2 linked regions of the Homo sapiens genome follow. The protein of the gene in region 1 interacts with the protein of each later gene in a pairwise test. Each region holds a gene or a part of one and is shown on either strand. Other genes may lie near its edges.

Evidence for each region. Proteins that work in one complex are often made in the same cells at the same time.
Region 2: the proteins of SEPHS1 (region 1) and ZNF276 interact in binary tests that used the Homo sapiens proteins (3 or more experiments, as listed by UniProt).

The regions. Positions count from the first base shown.
Region 1 is NC_000010.11:13,338,269-13,345,293, forward strand, and holds part of SEPHS1 (selenide, water dikinase 1), read right to left. Parts: intron 6,761-7,025; 5' UTR 6,683-6,760; coding exon 6,490-6,682; intron 2,641-6,489; exon of another isoform or gene 2,423-2,640; intron 541-2,422; coding exon 437-540; intron 1-436. UniProt on the Homo sapiens protein: Synthesizes selenophosphate from selenide and ATP.
Region 2 is NC_000016.10:89,724,537-89,731,561, forward strand, and holds part of ZNF276 (zinc finger protein 276), read left to right. Parts: intron 1-2,742; coding exon 2,743-2,821; exon of another isoform or gene 2,822-2,890; intron 2,891-4,698; coding exon 4,699-4,782; intron 4,783-5,394; coding exon of another isoform or gene 5,395-5,431; exon of another isoform or gene 5,432-6,127; intron 6,128-7,025. UniProt on the Homo sapiens protein: May be involved in transcriptional regulation.

The DNA of each region.
Region 1 (7,025 bases):
TCCTTAATCTCTTGAAGGAAACATTTAGGATCAGTCCTATTACAGAGGACAGTAACATCTCCAGCCTAAAACACAGGGGTGATGGAGGTTACCAATGTCAAAGAAGAGAAGGTGCAAGAAAGAAGAAAATGACAAAAACAGGCCATTGACATGCTACTAAACAAGAGGTGTTCTTACTCACAGCATGTACTCAGTTGCAACAGCAGCAGAGGGCCTTCCCTGCTTCCTCCCTAATTGCTTTATGCCCAGTGCCAAGTGTGGGCAGGGGACAGGCCTGACTTCAGCAACTGCAGGAGTCTGGGCAGGGTGGGGCAGTATAGTCGGGATATAACAGAAATAAAACCAAAACCCCACAGATACATACAAAACCCCAGCCACAACCCAAACCAAACAAATAAGCCCTTCCAGTCACAAAAACACATCGGCTCACGCTTACCATCATGTAAGGGTCGTCTACGATCGGGTAAATGTAATCTGTGGTTTGAACCAAGGAAAGCCCACCGTGCCTCAAAGGAATGACACAAGTATCCATTCCAATGCCTGTGGAGATGGAAGTCATTAGCATCCAAAAATAAAACGGGAAAGCCATTTCATTTTATATCACCAGTGCTCTGAACAGGAAGAGCTCATAAGATACTTATGGAAACTGCAGGCTGCCAATGAAGCCATGTGTTTCCTATCAAGAAGCGTAACTGAAATAAACGTGAAACATATCCAGCTTAGGATGGAAAATACCAATGAAAATGTTACTCATCAAGACTCAACTCCAATATGGCATAGTTTTAATCCTTAATGATGCCTTGAATAAAAATCTTTTTCACTGTATGACTTTTATTATTTTACTGTATTACTGTAGCGTGTGACTGGTACCGTATACAATTTCTTTGAAGATGAGAATCCTATAAATGGAACTTGGGTTATCTTAAGTATAGTTATTGTGCGTACATCTTTACAGACATTATCGTATTGTCCCATCAGAAACCATGTAAAATATTTTTACATTGAAAAATGCTATTATTACTTATACATTTTAGTCAAAAGTGAAAATGACACACACACAGATGAAATGAAAGGACAAATCCCAATCTACAATTCAATGGAAATTTCCAATCAAGCCTGGATATAAACACTCTGGCATCTATGTCAGAGGAGTCCCAAGACCACCAGTAGTAGTCAAGATACGCTACTCCTTGTCTTGGAGATAAGGCTGTACTCCTTTAAAAATTACTTGTAATGCAGGCATTTTACAAACTCAGACTAGCATTCCCACCAAGAAAGCTGAACACAGTGAGCAGCCCTACACCCCTCAGAAGGACACTCTTCTGTCCTCTTATGAGGACAGCTGTTCCTTGGTATCTGTGGGGGACTGGTTCCAGGACTCCCACAGACACCAACATCCACAGATGCTCAAATCCCTGATTTGAAATGTCCCAATATTTGCATATAACCTACACACATCTTCTCACATACCTTAAATCATCTCTAGATCACCTATGACACCCAATACGATGTGAATGCGATGTAAATATTTGTTATGCTGTACTGTTTAGGGAATAATGACAAGACAAAAAAAAGTCTGTGCATGTTGAGATGCAACCATCCACTTCTTTCCCTGCATATTTTCAGTCTGTGGTTGGTTGAATCCCCCACGAGGATTCTGCAGATACAGAGGGGGATGCTGTACTTCTACTTTGCAGCCCAATAGCCAAAAGCAGGGAAAAAGCCAGAATTAGGACAAAAGGAAGCAAATTATGTGCCTGAATCTACCCTATAAATTCAGAATTTCAAACAAGTTTAAATCATATCTGAATCGCACTAAAACGACCTTTAATATTCTGCGTAAGTGAAAGGGCCGTGAAGCACTGCCTCACTCGGTCTCATGACAGCAGCAGACCTCACAGAGGCGGGTCATGGAGGCACCAGATCTTTCCTGCTGCAAAAATGAAATCTCACTCAATAAAAAGCCATAGTCTGTGAAGACAGGCTGATTTTTATCACACTAGATAACAAAGCAGAAACTCTTGCTGGAAGACCTCGCTTAGGGAATGGAGAAGTGAAGTTCAGAATGGCAAGTTTCAACAATGTCAGGCACTGGATCAGTTTTCATCTGTCAGAGGAGAACGTGTGAGATAATTCACGTAAACAGCCCATGGGCACAACCTCTCAGAAATTTGTTTCATCACACTCTTTAGCACCTAAATAGAAATACCACTCTTTAACTCAATGGATTCTCCCTAAATGGATAATTCTGACAACTGGTTATTCTGAGTATATTATTATTCACTTTGGAAAACAGTAAGAGGCAGTTTTCTTTCAGGCTTCCATTTAAACTGGAGGACTACTGAAAGAGAAACTAAAATTGTTGCTGAATGTTAGCTTTAAATGTTCTTAATTTGAATAATCTTAAATTTGAATTACATACATTTGATTTGTAAAGCGCTTTATTTCTAAACTTAGCAAGTCCTTTGATCAGAGTAACGGGGGATTCTTGAGCACGCCCCTAGGGCTGAAAAGCAGCTCCGTTATCCACGGTTTCTCTTTCACACCTGTGCCACCACAGTCTACTAGAATAGGGTCTGGTGCTGTCCAATGTGGTTGACACTAGACACAGGGGGTGGCTGCGCATCTGACAAACAGGTGCTGTAAGTACAAAACAGACAACTGATTTTAAACACCTAGTACCAAAAACCAACATCTCATTAATAATGTCGTATATATACATACTGAAAAGACATTTTTATATATTGTGTTAAATAAAATAGATTATAATTAATTCCACCTGATTTTTGTTATCGGGTTTTTAAAAATATTACTTTGAATTTGAAAATTACGCATGTGGCTTGCATTGTATTTTTGGACAGCACTGGTCTACAGTGATTGGTTTAGAAATCACCAATCACATTTCAAGGAAGGAAGAGAGAAGGGGTGAGCCTGAGATGCCCACAGGCCTTGAAAAACTAGCGTTTGAAATGGAAAGACAGAGGGACGGTCCAGAGGGATGGTAACTGGGAACAGAGGAAAATGCCACAGGGTCGGGGAAGCCTTAAATACTAGACAGAACAGTTTAGGTTTAATGACCAGGAGGCAATGGGCAAACTTGCTGGAAGGTTTTCAGCAATACTGACATCCTCCATCAGAAAGACAACCTAAGTTATCACACCACTACCCACCCCCAACCCCTGCACCGCCCCCGCCAGCAGCAGCAATCATTACTTGATAGCTCCTAGGCACCAGGCAACAAATGTCTCTGGTTCTAAGGCACACTTCTTTTACCATTTCTTTAATTAGGATACATTTAGTAATCGTGTGTACATTTAAAAGCTGTTTTGGTTAACCCTTCAATTAACACCATTTTTGAAGCCAGAAAACATGACATTCAATTAGAAAAAAGTTAAAAACATAAACAGGCCGGGCGCGGGGGCTCATGCCTTTAATCCCAGCACTTTGGGAGGCCGAGGTGGGCAGATCACTTAGAGTCAGGAGTTCCAGACCAGCCTGACCAACATAGTGAAACCCTAACTCTATTAAAAATACAAAAAAATTAGCTGGGTGTGGTGGTGCACGTCTGTCATTCCAGCTACTTGGAGGGAGGCTGAGGCATGAGAATCAGGCCTGGGAGGGCCTTGAACCCGGGAGGCAGAGGTTGCAGTGAGCTGAGATTGCACCACTGTACTCAAGCCTGGGTGATGGAGTGAGACTCTATCTCAAGGAAAAAAAAAAAAAAAAGATGGCGGGGCGCGGTGTCTCACGCCTGTAATCCCAGCACTTTGGGAGGCCGAGGCAGGCGGATCACGAGGTCAGGAGATCGAGACCACTGTGAAACCCCGTCTCTACTAAAAATACAAAAAATTAGCCAGGCATGGTGGCGGGCGCCTGTAGTCCCAGCTACTCGGGAGGCTGAGGCAGGAGGATGGCGTGAACCTGGGAGGCGGAGCTTGCAATGAGCGGAGATCGCGCCACTGCACTCCAGCCTGGGCGACAGAGCGAGACTCCGTCTCAAAAAAAAAAAAAGTTAAAAAAATAAACATACAGCCGGGTGCGGTGGCTCACGCCTGTAATCCCAGCACTTTGGGAGGCTGAGGTGGGTGGATAACCTGAGCTCAGGAGCTTGAGACCAGCCTGGCCAACACCTTGAAACCCCGTCTCTACTAAAAACACAAAAAAATTTAGCTGGGTGTGGTGGCATGCGCCTGTAGTCCCAGCTACTTGGGAGGCAGAGGCAGGAGATCACTGCTTGAACCTGGGAAGCGGAGGTTGCAGTGAGCTGAGATTGTGCCACTGCACTCCAGCCTGGGCGACACAGTGAGACTTCATCTCAACAACAACAAAAAAAAGGTCAAAAACACCCATACATATATACCATATATACTTGTGTACAGAGGGTATACACATACATGTATTATATATGTAAGTACAGACATACATGGCACACCTACACACATTTTTGGTACAACAATGCAAAACAGTAATCTTTTTTTTTTTTTTGAGGCAGGGTCTCACTCTGTCTCCCAGGCCGCAGTACAGTGGTGTGACCTCAGCTCACTGTAGCCTCTGCCTCCCGGGCTCAAGGGATCCTCCCACCTCAGCCTCCCGAGTAGCTGAAACTACAGGTGTACACCAGCAAGCCCAGGTAACTTTTGTATTTTTAGTAGAGATGGGTTTCACCATTTTGCCCAGGCTGGTCTTGAACTCCTGACCTTGAGTGATCTGCCCATCTTGACCTCCCAAAGTGCTGGGATTACAGGTGTGAGCCACCGCACCCAACCCCAAACAGTAATTATTATTTTATAGATTAGGAAGCTGAGGCTCAGGAGGGCTGGGTGACATTCATGACATAATATGAGTGACTAGTAAGTAACTGTGCCAGAGGAAGTTATAAATAGTAATTCTTACTTTATGCCGTAATGTTTTAATTTCATTGGTTTTTGAGCATTAAGTATTAATAGCTTTTTTTCTTGACAGTTATCTAACAGCTTCCTCAGTATATTCTCATTTCTCGACAAATAAGCCAACATCAAACCCAGCTCGCTCACATGGTATTTCTCCACAGCTTGGCCATCAGCTGGACGGCAGGAACTGTTTTCAAACTGAGCTCCTCAAAGTCCTGCAGGTCACCAGCGACTGGGGTGTAACATTTCTTCCTTTCCAACAAAAGCAAGTCTGCTTTTATCTGCTTTCTCTATCTGGGAGTAAAGGAGACCCCAGGCTCATAACCAATGAACCTTACCAAATAATGGGCAAAAACAAATGAAATGAAAACCTTGGCTGGGTGTGGTGGCTTACACCTGTAATCCCAGCACTTTGGGAGGCTGAGGCAGGCAGATCACCTGAGGTCAGGAGTTCGAGAACAGCCTGGCCAACATGGTAAAACTCCCATCTCTACTAAAAATACAAAAATTAGCCGGGCATGTGGCAGGGGCCTATAATCCCAGCTACTCAAGAGGCTGAGGCAGAAGAATCGCATGAACCCAGGAGGCAGAGGTTGCAGTGAGCCAAGATCACGCCACTGCACTCCAGCCTGGGTGACAGAGTGAGAATCCATTTCAAAAAAAAAGGAAGAAAACTGATCAAGTCACACAGTAATTATCGAACATCCAAACCTCCGAAACTATGCGTCGAACACAAGAAAAGTGATCACAGTCTTGTACTGTGTACTTAATAAACTGCACAAGAAACATGAATAAACAATATCCCAGGAGCCCAGAATTTGTTTCTAAGCTCTGTGTTTGGGAAAAGTGAAATCACTCATGACATCAGGAATGTAGTAAAGAAAAAGACATTGCCCTGGTTCCAGATGACATCCTGGGGTCAAGAACAGATCCATCCAGTCCTGGGTCTGGAGCAGTCCCACCTCCTCACCGTAACACGCTTTTCGCCCGATGCACCCTGCAGAGAACCCCAATGCCCTCCTGACACAGTCACTGCCATCCAAGTACAGCACAAGAACCCTAAGGCTGGAACCGCCTTTCCTAGGGCAATGAAGGGAATGTGAGCATTTTAGGAGTCCTTTTAGGAAAAGGGAATAAAGTATTTCTGCTTAATCTTCAGCTAACAGAAAATTCAATTCAATTAAATTGAAAATAAAAATTAAAAAGTTTTTACTGTAATAACAATCTCAATTGCATACTCCATGATTTAAAAACTGTCAAGAGTACCCCTCTTGATGCGTTTCAAGTACTTTCTCTACATAAGTTACAAGAACATAACATAGCAATCATAACATTGATTGCTCTTCTAATCCTTCCCACAAAAATTAAAAAAAAATAAAGGGGGTACGATGTACACTATTTGGGTGATGGCTACACTAAAAGCCTAGTCTTCACCATTATGTAATATATTCATGTAACAAAACTGCATGTGTATTCCTCAAATCTATAAAAGCAAAAAAAGTAATAATAAAAAATAAATAGGCAACATGGGAGGCGAGAAATCCAGTTTTTGACTCACTGATTGGATCGCAGACCATCAAAGAAACACTGGGTTACCTACCAAGCCTTGGCATAACGGCTCCCAGAAACTGCTCATCTTCTTGGAAGTGGTTCTCCTGTAAAGATTCCAGCAATTTTTGCAGGACATCTTGGGGCACTTTGCAGCCTGTGCCCTTCAGTTCAGTGAATCTGGTTAGCCGGAAGCTTTTGTCCAATTCGTAACTTTCCGGGTTAAAGGACTCCCGCGTAGACATGGTTCTTGGGCCCCGCTCTCCTCACAGCTCAGCCCCTCCCCTCCCTCTGCGGGTTGGCTGGGTTCTTTATGGATCCACCTGGGTGTCACCAAAACACAAAGATGCCATGAAAAGAATTCCCACTGGGACCTGCCAGCGAATCAAGTGAATACATGACAGCGAAAAGTCAATGTGACAAGGGCTGAAATCATCAAGACCACTTATATTCACCACAGCAGTGCATATGACAAAATAGATCTTTTCATAACGGGACTGCGTCAGCACAGACATCTATGTAAAATCTGACATCTGGACTGTGGTTTTAACTGTGGCAAGAGGGCCAGCCTGCAGGTTCACATGACAC
Region 2 (7,025 bases), on another chromosome or scaffold:
CTCTGGAGGCTGAGGCACGAGAATCACTTCAGCCTGGGAGGCGGAAGTTGCAGTGAGCCGACATCGCACAACCGTACTCCAGCCTGGGTGACAGAGCAAGACTCTGTCCCAAACAGAAACACAGCTACCCAGATAGTTTAGCTAGATACGGGTGCACAGATGAGACAGTGCGGCTCGGGGGCCTCAGGTAGGAACGGGATTGTGAGTGTCACATCTTAGAGCTGCTTGGCTCTGTAAACTTGTATGCAGTGTGTTGAGAACAATTCTATCTATCTGTGTATCTATCTACCTACCTACCTATCTATCTTCCTACTTCTTTGTCTCTCTCTATCTACCTACCTATCTGTATATCTATGTATCTACTTATCTACCTATTTATCTATTTATTTACCTACTTATCTATCTATCTATGTGTTTATTTATTTTTGAGACAGAGTCTCGTTTTGTAGCCCAGGCTGGAGTGCGGTGGTGCCATCTTGGCTCACCGCTACCTCAGCCTCCCGAGTAGCTGGGATGACAGGCACATGCCACCACGCCCACCTAATTTTTGTATTTTTAGTAGAGATGGGGTTTCACCATGTGGGCCAGGCTTGGTCTCGAACTCCTGACCTCGTGATCCACCTGCCTCAGCCTCCCGAGTAGCTGGGATGACGGGCACGTGCCACCACGCCCACCTAATTTTTGTATTTTTAGTAGAGATGGGGTTTCACCATGTTGGCCAGGCTTGGTCTCGAACTCCTGACCTCGTGATCCACCTGCCTCAGCCTCCCGAGTAGCTGGGATGATGGGCACGCGCCACTACGCCCACCTAATTTTTGTATTTTTAGTAGAGATGGGGTTTCACCATGTTGGCCAGGCTTGGTCTTGAACTCCTGACCTCGTGATCCACCTGCATCAGCCTCCCAGAATGCTGGGATTACAGGTGTGAACCACCGCGCCCAGCCAAGAACAATACTTTTTAAAACTTATTTTAGGCCAAGTGCAGTGGTTCACGCCTGTAATCCCAGCACTCTGGGATGCTGAGGTAGGCGGATCACGGGGTCAGGAGATCGAGACCATCCTGACTAACACGGTGAAACCCCATCTCTACTAAAAATACAAAAAATTAGCTGGATGTGGCTGTGGTTGCCTGTAGGCCCAGCTACTTGGGAGGCTGAGGCAGGAGAATCGCTTGACCCTGGGAGGCGGAGATTGCAGTGAGCTGAGATTCTACCACTACGCTCTGGCCTGACCGACAGAGCAAGATTCTGTCTAAAAAAGAAAAAAACAAAACAAAGAAAACTTATTTTAAGTAGAGACAGGGTCTCACTCTTTTGCCCAGGCTGGTCTTGAATTTCTGTCTTCAAGTGATCCTTCTGCCTTGGCCTCCCAAAAGGCTGAGATTATAAGCATGAACCTTCAGGCCTGGCCGAGAGAACAGTAATATTTATTTATTTATTTATGGAGTCTCGCTCTGTCGCCACCAGGCCTGGCCGAGAGAACAGTATTATTTATTTATTGATGGAGTCTCACTCTGTCGCCCAGGCTCGAGTGCAGTGGCACAATCTCGGCTCACTGCAGCCTCTGCCTCCTGGGTTCAAGTGATTCTCCTGTCTCAGCCTCCCGAGTAGCTGGGATTACAGGCTTGTGCCACCACACCCTGCTAATTTTTTTGTATTTGTATTTGTATTTGTTTTGAGAAGGAGTTTCACTCTTTGTTACCCAGGCTGGAGTGCAGTGGCACGATATCAGCTCACCACAACCTCTGCCTCCCAGGTTCAAGCGATTCTCCTGCCTCAGCCTCCCGAGTAGCTGGGATTACAGGCATGCACCACTATGCCTGGCTATTTTTGTATTTTTTAGTAGAAATGGGGTTTCTCCATGTTGGTAAGGCTGGTCTCGACCTCCCGACTTCAGGTGATCCGCCCACCCCGGCCTCCAAAGTGCTGGAATTGCAGGCATGAGTTACCACGCCCAGCTCAATTTTTTGTATTTTTTGTAGAGACGGGGTTTAACCATGTTAGCCAGGTTGGTCTTGATCTCCTGACCTTGTGATCCACCCGCGTCAGCCTCCCAAAGTGCTGGGATTACAGGCGTGAGCCACTGCACCCGGACTGAGAATAGTAATTTTTAATTATTTTATTTTTTTGAGTCGGAGTCTTGCTCTTTTGCCCAGGCTGGAGTGCAGTGCGCGATCTCGGCTCACTGCAATGTCTGCCTCCCGGGTTCAAGCGATTCTTCTGCCTCAGCCTCCCAGGTAGCTGGGATTACAGGTGTGTGCCACCATGCCCGGCTAATTTTTGTATTTTTAATAGAGATGGGGTTTCACCACGTTGGCCAGGCTGGTCTCGATCTCCTGACCTCGTGATCCACCTGCATCGGCCTCCCAAAGTGCTGGGATTACAGACATGAGCCACCGTGCCTGGCCTAGTAATTTTTTAAATGTCTCAGAACATCCACCAAGTCCAGGCTGTCCTAGAAGGACTGGATCGGAGTCAGTGGAAGGACTGGGCTTTCTGGTTCTGCTGTTCCTGAGGGTTCTGATGCTTGTTGCTGCCTGTGTGCTTCTGGACGTTGGGCTGGCAGGGCAGGATCAGAGGCTGCATAGCACCCTTGGTGGGGATGGGGCCATGGTGGGGAGAACTTGAGGGTCAGGGACCCCAGTCTCCCTTCTAGTCATCAATAGTAGAATCATGCCTCCTTGCAGGTGAGACCTTTCTGTGCTCCGTGTTGGTAACAGGAGCCTTGTTCTTTGTTTCTCAGGGCAGTTGGGTGAGAAGCAGCTTCCATCTTCAACCTCGGATGATCGGGTAAAAGACGAGTTCAGTGACCTTTCTGAGGGGTGAGAGAAGAGTGGGTTTAAACAGCCTAAAATTTCTCCTTCAAAAACCATCAGTGACCTTTCTGAGGGGTGAGAGAAGAGTGGGTTTAAACAGCCTAAAATTTCTCCTTCAAAAACCAAACAGCCATCGTAGGGTCGGCTGCCCATGCGCTGGTACCAAACTAAGCCATCACAGGGGCCGGCTGTCCGTGCCCTGGTTGGGACACGCCTCCTCTCGAGGTGGCGGGAGAGGAGGGGCTGGGGAGCTTCCGAGGCTTCTTGTCTCTGATTGATGGTTTCCTGGGTGCCAGAGAGCACTCCCAGACCTGAGGCAGCTCCAGAGGGAGCCTGATAGGGTTTCTGACCCAGAGCAGCCTAGAAATGAGTTTGTTGAAACCACTCTGGCTGGGTCCTTTGCTTCTGCTACTGTTTTAGGGCCATAGTTTTGTGTTCGCTCCAGATGTTTCTGGAGTAGAGAAACCCCGACTTTAGCCCTTGACTATGACACTGTTGTGGCTTGAAGCCGAGGCTCTGCGAGGAGGTGTTGCAGGAGGACGGGCCTCAGAAGGGACCTCATCAGTGTCTGCAAACTCCCTGGGCCACCCCTGCCTCTGAGCCAAGCGCCATTCAGGGCAGCTGTGCCAGGCTGGGGTTTGCACCGTTTCCACCCTCTCCTGTAAACCTTGGCTGCAACACAGATGCACCTCATCCAAATGAGGACACCCCAGTTTGGGGGCCAATCCCAGTGGGATGTGCAGTGATGAAATCGGGCAGGTGCCAGGAGGCACCTGGGGTGGCTAAGACTGTCCTCAGGACCACCAGGACACAAAACCGCAGCTGAGGTTATAGCATAAAGGCCACAAATCTTTTTTTTTTTTTTTTTTTCCTTTTGTGAACTTTTTTTTTTAGACCGAGCCTTACTCTGTTGCCCAGGCTGGAGTGCAGTGGTGTGACCTCAGCTCACTGCAAACTCCACCTCCCGCGTTCAAGTGATTCTCCCGCCTCAGCCTCCCGAGTAGCTGGGATTACAGGCGCCCGCCACCACACCCAGCTAAGTTTTGTATTTATTTATTTTTTTTTTATTTGAGACGGAGTCTCGCTGTGTTGCCCAGGCTGGAGTGCAGTGGCACAATCTCGGCTCACTGCAAGCTCTGCCTCCCGGGTTCACGCCATTCTCCGGCCTCAGCCTCTGAGTCGCTGGGACTACAGGCACCCGCCACCACGCCCGGCTAATTTTTTGTATTTTTAGCAGAGACGGGGTTTCACTTTGTTAGCCGGGATGGTCTTGATCTCCTGACCTCGTGATCCGCCCGCCTCTGCCTCCCAAAGTGCTGGGATTACAGGTGTTAGCCACCGCACCCGGCCAATTTTTGTATTTTTAGTAGAGACGGGGTTTCACGGTATTGGCCAGGCTGGTCTTGAACTCCTGACCTCATGCGATCCACCTACGTCACCCTCCCAAAGTGCTGGGATTACAGGAGTTAGCCTCTGCACCCAGCCACTTTTGTGAACTTAGAAGTGACTCATGGCAAACCCATCAGTTGCATAGGGTTCGCAGTTATGGGGTGAGGTGGTCGATTTCTCAAAGTCTGCTTAGCAGGAAGCTACCTTTGAGCGCCTCCACCCCTTCTGGGCCGCTGTGGAAAGGGCTGTTTCCAAGTCCAGTGTCCTGGTGCCCAGAGCACATGGCTTGTGGGGATTGCTGGCTTGTGAGCCTGGCTGGCCCTTTGTGTTCGGAAACGGGATTGGAAATTTGGGGATTTTAGATTTAAGACATTTTCAGAAGAACTCAAATGTGGGACATGGGGGTCCATTTGGTATCTTTAGGCAGGAGGTCGTGTTGGGTCTGTCACTGCCCAGGCCCAGGGCTTTGCTGAAGATTCTCTCTTAATTCCTAGAGACGTCTTGAGTGAAGATGAAAATGACAAGAAGCAAAATGCCCAGTCTTCGGACGAGTCCTTTGAGCCTTACCCAGAAAGGAAGTAAGTGGGCAGCCCGGGGTCTGCTGGAGGCATCCGTTGGGCGACCTAGACACCCGCCTGTGCTCCAGGGCCTCTCCCCGGTGCCCACTCAGTTCACTCTCTCGTGTGCGGATCTCCCGAGCCCAGTGAAACGTGGCTTCCCTCAGTGAGCGGGAGGCGGGGGAGGGGCAGGCGGGCAGGTGAGAAGGTGGGTCCTCCTGGTGCTTTGGAGCTGGGACCTGGTCTCGGCACTGTGAGGCTGCCTCAGAGTCCCAGCAGTGGATGGCAGGTGTCTCTGTCGACAGAACCCCGCCTTGCTTGAGAAGGAGGCTCTTACGTCCCTTCTGCCGGTCCTGCCCTGGGTTCACACCCCAGTGTACCCCCGAAGCCCCCAACCCGTCGCTTCTGCTTTGTGTGCGTCCCCAGAGGCCCGAGGACCCAGCTCTGTCATCCTCCCAGTTCTGACCCCATCACTGATGTCCATGGCCAGGCAGCCACGGTCCACTTCCCTGTTGAATGACTTCTGTGAGCTTGTTTTGACTTTGTTTTTAGGGATTTTTATTTTCTCTCTTCAGTTAGAACACAGGCCCTGGTAGTGAGGGCTGGTTTTCACTTGTGCTGTTTTCTTTGCAGCCCTATACCCAGCAGTACCCAGAACACTCCCAGGTAGTTGGTGACTGACCCAGTCCCTGTCCTTGAGCATTTCACAGCCCAGAACAAAGGTCCAGAGGGCAGGTGGCTCTGAGCACCACCGTCAGCCACTAGAACCCTGCTGTGCAGACTGAGAGGTCAACGGCCTTTTTTCATGGAAGTTCTGATGCTGTTAAGTTCTGAAAAGAGAAACGGGAGCAGTGGAGGAGGCCCGGAGAGAGATGCGAAGCAGAGGGCAGGACTGAGCCAGAGGGGCTGCAGCAGCTTCAGCATGAACAGAAAACTGGTCAGGCCCAGAAAAGGTGCCCGGGGGTCCCTACCCCCAGGCTTGTTCCCAGGAGTCATGGCTGGGAGTGCCGCCTGAGGCTGCTGTACGGAAGCCCCCACTCCGTGACCCTCCGGGTTGAGTCTGAATCCCAGGACACCTGAGAATGTGTCTCTGGCTTGCTGCCCAGAAGGTCTGGGGCTGCTGGTGTGAGGAGGGCTGGGAGCTGGGATGGGAGGAGCCAGGCGAGCCTTTTCCGGATCGAGGCAGATTCAGGAGGGGAGGGTCCTCTCTGCTGAGCCCCTGCTGCTGTGACAGGGACAGCACACTCAGACTGTGTCACTAGTCCCTCTGGGACCCCAGGAGTGCAGACAAAGACGTGCTTTGGAACAGAGACACGGGAGATACGTTTTCAGAGGTCTCTAATAAAAGGGGTGACTTCAGTGGAAACCGCTGCGCAGGAGGCAGGACTGGGTGGTAGCAAGCATGGCCTCCTGACTGCGGCGAGTACCAGGGGCACTTGGTTCCCCAGCTGCCACCGTGAGACCCCCCTGGGAACCCAGAAGGGCCTCTGCACAGCCCCCGGCCCGTGTGCTGCCTCCCAGTCTTGTCAACCCTGACCTTGGAGTTCTAGCGGGCGTGCCCGCCTGTGTCCTCAGCTGGGGGCGCATGAGAAGAGACTTCTGTGATGTGTTAATGAGGGGTCAGTGGTTCCCGCCAGAGGGGAAGGCCAGGGCCTGCACCCCCATGGGGAAAGAACTGACAGGCAGCAGTGAGGCCTGAGCCCAGCCCACCCGGTCCGCAAAGATTCCCGTCCCAAACACGAGGGCACAGAGACTGCGGGTGCTCTGAAGCCTCCTGTGCTGAGGAGGTGAGTGGTCATTGTGGGAACGGCATGGCCAGCCACTCACAAACAAGGGGCCACCCAATCCAGGCAGGCAGGGCAGGTGAGGGGGACATGTGGCTAGGTCATGAAAACCAGTTATTAGGGACAGGGAGAGAAGGCGCAGCCTGTGCGAAGTCAACAGTTCTTCTCAGTGCGTTTTTGTCTTGTTTCTGAGATGGAGTCTTGCTCTGTTGCCCAGACTGGAGTGCAGTGGCACGATCTTGGCTCACTGCAACCTCCGCCTCCCGAGTTCAAGTGATTCTCCTGCCTCAGCCTCCTGAGTAGCTGGGATTACAGGCATGTGCCACCATACCTGGCTAATTTTTGTATTTTTAGTAGAGATGGGATTTCTCCCACGTTGGCCACACTGGTCTCGAACTCCTGACCTCATGATCCGCCCGCCTCAGCCTGCCAAAGTGCTGGGATTACAGGCGTGAGCCACCGCGCCGGCCTCAATGCACT